Regions from separate parts of the Homo sapiens genome. Here region 2 is linked to region 1. The links come from fine-mapping of genetic effects on gene expression. A gene starts in region 1. The other region holds a variant in brackets. All regions are shown on one strand. Distances are from middle to middle.

Evidence for each region.
Region 2: its variant is fine-mapped to the expression of COL9A3 in whole blood (INTERVAL, PIP above 0.99).

The regions. Positions count from the first base shown.
Region 1 is chr20:62,815,494-62,818,391 of GRCh38, reverse strand. It overlaps COL9A3 (collagen type IX alpha 3 chain), which reads right to left and starts at 1,342. Exons shown (of 32, transcript NM_001853.4): 1 at 1,250-1,342; 2 at 757-825. The coding sequence starts at 1,327. RefSeq lists enhancers at 1-413, 1,102-1,787, 2,476-2,898.
Region 2 is chr20:62,845,469-62,848,367 of GRCh38, reverse strand. The region is part of intron 5 of TCFL5 (transcription factor like 5); the gene reads left to right. It also overlaps the pseudogene DPH3P1. Among named protein-coding and RNA genes, the nearest start is that of TCFL5, 15 kb to the left of the region's middle. RefSeq lists an enhancer at 537-831. The variant C/T (reference allele first, on the strand shown) is at 1,508.

The sequences.
Region 1 (2,898 bases):
GCCCCTGAGCCCCCGATCCCTACCTAGAGGGCACCCTCCCATGTGTGGGGCAGCACTGGGCAAAGGGGTGAACTGGACAGACTGGAAGGAGGCTGTGGCCATTGAGGCCGAGCTGGGCAGGGGGGCAGAGGGTGGGTCATGGGGGGCTCTTGGTGCAGCCCTCCACAGCCCTCCACGGGGACCACACAGCGTGGACAGGCCCTGAGGGGACTCCTGCCCTGGTGGTGGTCACATGGGGAGGTTCACCCCAGACGGTCCCTCCGAGGGAGGCACAATTGTAGAATTTCAGCCGCCTCCTCCTGCTGCTTGGCCCACACCAGTCCTGAGATACCCATAGGGGACATCATCTCAGGACTGAGTCGGCTCCTAAGCCCCCTCCATGGCTGGCTCCAGAGCCCAGCAGCCTCCAACAAGACCCCCGGCCCCCAACCACCCAAAGGACGTGCCTCTCCCCACTTCAGCCAGAGGCCAGAACCCCGAACACAGGGGCACGGGCCCCTCAGGGGACCCAGAGACACACACCTCAGTGCCGGCATTCTGGGTGGAGGACCACCACATGACACCCTCCACCCCTACCCACCAGCAGTCCCCGCAGGGCCACCCCCATCCCGTGAAGGCACTGGCTGTCCCCTGATGTCACCCCGGCTCTGGGAGGTGGGGCCTGGTTTTCTCTCCATCAGGCCGGGGAGCTCAGGGAGGTGGGGGCCAGAGCCAGAACCCCAGAGCGCTCGGGGCCCTCCCCACCCCCAAACTCACGTCAATGCCGTCCTGGCCGGGCTTCCCGGGCGGCCCTGGGGGGCCGGGGGGGCCGGGGAGTCCCACTCTCTGAAACGGAGAAAACTCATTAAGGAGCGCAGGTGCCCCCGTGGGCCTGACCCGGCGTCCCCTCCTCCCGGGTCCCGAGCGGCTCCGGGGCCTGCGACGACCGCCGCTCTCCTCGGTGAGACCCAAAGCCTCGGGCGGAGCCCGGCGCCCCCGCGCAGTGTGTCCCCCGCCTCCCTCCGGCGGCGGGAACAAAGGCCCCCTTGTGCTCCCAGAGGAGGCGGCGGCGCCGGCCGACCCGGGCCAGCGAGGACCCATCGAGGACGCGGCCGGACGGGGCTCATCCCGAGGCGCTGGCGACTCCGCGCCCCGACGGCGACACGGGCTGGGGGCGTCGAGGCTGCGCCGGGCACCCCGGAGTGGCGGGTTCGGGGCTGGGGCGGTCGCGGCTCCACGTCCAGCCTCAGAGCCCGGAGCTCGCGCTCACCTGCGCCCCGGCGGCCGCCAGAAGCTCCCCGAGCAGGAGCAGGAGCAGGAGCGGGGCGCACGCGCGCGGCCCGGCCATGGCTGAGCGGAGTCTGAGCTGCGGCGTCGGGGCGGGCGGCGCGCGGGCGGGCGGGGCGGGAGGTGGGCGGCCCCTTCCCCTTCCCCTTCCCGCCCCCGCCTGCACAAGCCCCCCATTCAGCCGGGCCCACCTGGGCGGGGGGGCTTCCACCCGCCCCGCGCCGCCGCCCAGCCCGCCTGGGCGAAAACAAAAAAGACGCCGGGCGGGCGGCGCGTTCTCTCCGGCCGCGAGTTAAAATTATCCTGGGACTGGCGCGTTGCACACACGCAGCTTTGAGCAAGAGAGAAAGACGCTCTTTTCTCTCCTTGCTCCTCAACCCGAGTGTGGGGGCGGAAGCGCGCGGCGCTGAAGGGCCGCCTTCAGGGAGGGGCAGGGGAGACCCGCGAGTTTCCGAAGCCGCAGACCCCTCCCCAGGCGCCGGAGCGGACCCAGGCGACCCAAGGCCCAGGAACACCCCGGGGAGGGTGAATCCCCGGTACCAGGGCCCGGTCAGTGCCCAGCGCAGCCCTGGTTCCCGCTCCGGGGTCACTGTCCAGCGCTGCCTGCTGGGCTGGGAGCACCCCCACCGCGGCCCCTCACCCGTGGACCTGGACGGGCCGGGTGGTCAGGCCACGTCAGTTGCTACCGGCTAAGACCAGACTCCAAACCCAGACTCCCAGGAGAGATCGCAAAACGATGACCCTGGCCGAGGGGAAGAACCCCTCCCCGGGATCCCCGGCCTGAAGGAACCGTGCCCTGGGCAGGAACCTGAAGGCGGTGCTGGCCATGTCCATTTCCCAGAAGCTCAGGGGTCGCCAGGTCCGGCCAAGCTCTGCCTCAGGCTGCCAGGGCAGTCGCTGCCCTAGGGGACTCAAAGCTTCCAGTTGCCTGTAGGCTCAGTGAAGGCGCAGATGCCAGCCCCTCCCCCAGGAATCTTGAAAATTCCCGAGAAAGGCTGCCCTGGGGGTTGTAGGGGGCTGCAGGAGCTTCCTTTCGGCAGGTGGGGACTCATGACTGTTGCAATGCTGTGAGTTAGCAAGGGCGGGAGGGGATGAGAGGGGAGTGGGCGCAAAACTGCTCAGCAGGAGCACCGCACTCTGGCCGGGCGCAGTCAGCCTGGCGACAGAGGGAGGCCTCATCTCTACCAAAAATTGAAACATCGGCCGGGCGTGGCCAGCTTGGAGACAGAGGGAGGCCTCATGTCTACCAAAAATTAAAACATCGGCTGGGCATGGTGGTGCTCGCCTGTAGTCCACGCTACACGGGAGGCTGAGGCAAGAGGATCGCTTGAGCCTGTAAGGTCGGGGCTGCAGTGAGCCAAGACGGCGCCACTGCACTCCTGCCTGGGCAAGAGAGTGAGACCCTGTCTCAAAATAATAGTGTCGCTCTAATCTCTCCCGCGGTGAAGTGAGTGGAGGGAGATTCTCCCTTCACTGCTGGGTGAGCGCGGTGGCTGGGCTGGGAGGGGTGTGTGCGAATTCCATCAGGCGAGGTGGGAGGAGCTGAAAAGGCCCACCCTCCTGAGGAGTCCAAGTCATCCTGGCACAGAGCTTCCTAACAGAGGACTTTTGATTACGGGGAGAGGTGGGTGG
Region 2 (2,899 bases), 30 kb before region 1:
ATAGTGCCCACTACAACTTTTTCCCCAGTCGGGATGGCGTCTGGGGCGCTGGTTGTGTTTAGTTGTGAGATGCCCCTGCACGCTGGGGGCCCTGAAGGTGCCAGCCACTCCTGGGGCCTCCCTTGTGGTGTCTGTCCCTCCCTTCTTCACACCAGCAGGTGGTTGAGTCCCGCTTCGCATCTCCCTGCCATCTGCATCAGGCCCCGGTGTCGCTGTCCCTCACGTGCTGTCTGTTGTCAGGCCCTGCTGCAGACTCGGACTGGCCTGTCCCTTCTCTCCTCCTTTCCTGCGGACACGCTGTGACTTCTCCCGTGATCCTTCTGTGAGAACTCCCTGGACCTCGTGTCCTGTACTGGCAACCGCCCATTTCTCTGCTCTCCTTGGCTGCCCGGCTGCCCGGCGCTTGTCTGTACCTCCTGAGCCACTTCATCCTCTCTTGGATCCATTCCCAGCAGCCTGTGATCATGGCCTCCCATGCCGTTTGGTCACGCCACCACGCCCAGCTAATTTTTGTATTTTTAGTAGAGATGGAGTTTTGCCATATTGGCCAGGCTGGTCTCGAACTCCTGACCTCAGGTGATCCGCCCGCCTCGGCCTCCCACAGTGCTGGGATTACCAACGTGAGCCACCGCGCCTGGCCTACATACGGATTTTCATTCTGTTTTTGAACATGGCCACTGGAGGGCCTCTCGGCTGCAGAGCAAGCGTTTGTAGCTTGTTCGTGGCAGAATGAGCCGAACGCTGTGTTGTGACCTGTTTTAAAAATAAAGCATCTTGAAAAAGAAAAGCCATTCTTTTTGTCCTAATGAGTTTATGCCTCCTTACCTCTGGCCACCTGAGCTCCTTGGTCTGCTGTACCCCTCTGGCCTGGGCCGTGCTGGAGTCTTTCTGGGGCTCAGTCATTCACTTTGTTGGTTTTTTATGTGGGGTCAGTGGTAGTGCTTTTTCCATCATAATTTGCTCTTATCTTTATTATCCCAAAACCTTATTTCTATTATTTCCTTCTTGAAGTTTTATTTTTTTCTGGTATCTTGGGTTGAAAGTTTATTTTGTCTATGTTGTTTTCTAATCAATGCATTATAGTAAATTTGTCCTGGTGTGCTTTTGAAACATTTCACAGGTTAGGACACAATGCTTTCATTGTTTCTCAGTTTTAAATAGCTTGTAATTTTTTTTTTTTTTTTTTGAGATGAAGTTTCACTCGTTGCCCAGGCTGCCGTGTAATGGCGCGATCTTGGCTCACTACAGCGTCTGCCTCCTGGGTTCAAGCAATTCTCCTGCCTCAGCCTCCTGAGTAGCTGGGATTACAGGCATGTGCCACCACCCCGGCAAATTTTGTATTTTTATTAGAGATGGGGTTTCTCCATGTTGGTGAGGCTGGTCGTGAACTCCCGACCTCAGGTGATCCACCCACCTCGGCCTCCCAAAGTGCTGCGATTACAGGTGTGAGCCACTGCACCCGGCCGCTTTCTTCCTCTTAATAACTTCCTGGTATATTTTCCTGACT[C/T]ATAGTTAGAGCTATTTCTTTTTTCTTACTAAGAAAATTTTTTTTATTGTTGGTATTATTATTTTTCTTTTTCTTTCTCTCTTTTTTTTTTTTTCCCAGCGAGGGGCCCTCATTCTGTCACCCAGGCTGGAGTGCGGTGCAACCACAGCTTAGTGCAGCCTCGTCCTCTTGGGCTCAGGTGCTCCTCCTGCCTCAGCCTCCCGAGTAGCTAGGACCGTAGGCGCCCCTCACCACCGCACCCGTCTTGTTGTTATTCTTCTCATGTTCACAAATCTAACATGAGTATCTGCTTTGGGACGTTGTCATCTCAATGTTTTGATGTTATAAAAATTCCTTTAAAACTCAACGATTTCACATATGTTCTGTTGCAAATAGATGCATTTGGATTGAGGTGCAGATTGAGAGTGCGATGACATCAGTACCACGTCTTTGGCCTGGGCTCAGCTGAGGAGGACTAAGGGGATCTGCTCCTCTCTTTCACAGCTGCCCCAGCTCCCAGGAGACGGGTCGTGGGCGGGCCCTGCAAGGGTCCAGATGGAACCACAACTCAACCCTGCCTCTGCCCAACTGTTCATAGTGAAGGCAGACGCCGGGACTAGCCTCATCACTGTGTGAAAATAGTTCAGAAGATCTTGCGAGCGCCTAGTTATGTCTGAGGATGATTATTTTCTTCCTTCCTTCTTTTTTTTTAAATTATCGTCTTTTAAATTTAGATGGATAATTAAGAATGCTTCCAATTTAAGGTTCTAAGCACAAACTCCAGATACGTCATGTTATGGACTTGCTTCCTGAAGATGAAATCAGCAGTTGATGGAAAGAATCCACAACACGCCTACAGAACAGCAAATCACAAATGGCTGTGTCTCCACGAAGCCAGGAGCTTTGCATTTGAAGTTTCTATCTGGGCTCATTTCCAGCTGTTCAGGGTTCGGATTCCTGAAGGCTTCCTTAGCATTTAACTCATTCTTTGTTGACTGAAGGCACTGGCACTGTTTCTCCACACGCAAACTGATCTTTGTCATAAATCACTTTTATAATGAGAGAGCAGCCTGGACACATTGCCACACCTTCCCCATTCTCCAGCTCTTCCTTGGTGATGGAGAAGTTATCTCCGCATGGGCAGGGACAGAAATATGTCTCCGAGTCCTCGTCATATTGGAAGTCCTCGATTTCCACCTCGTCATGAAATACTGCCATGGTCAGCGGGGGTTGCTGAAGGGGTGACGCCCCAGCAGTCCGAGACCAGCTCCGAGGGTCTAACTTCTCCGGAGCCGGCCCAGGCTCTGACTTTCATTTAATTGTCCTGAAAGGTGAATTCTATCTTGCCAAATAGGCAAGTGTTTTTTATATGTAGGCTTTAGGTGTCAGAATATAGGAAATTATCAAAATGTG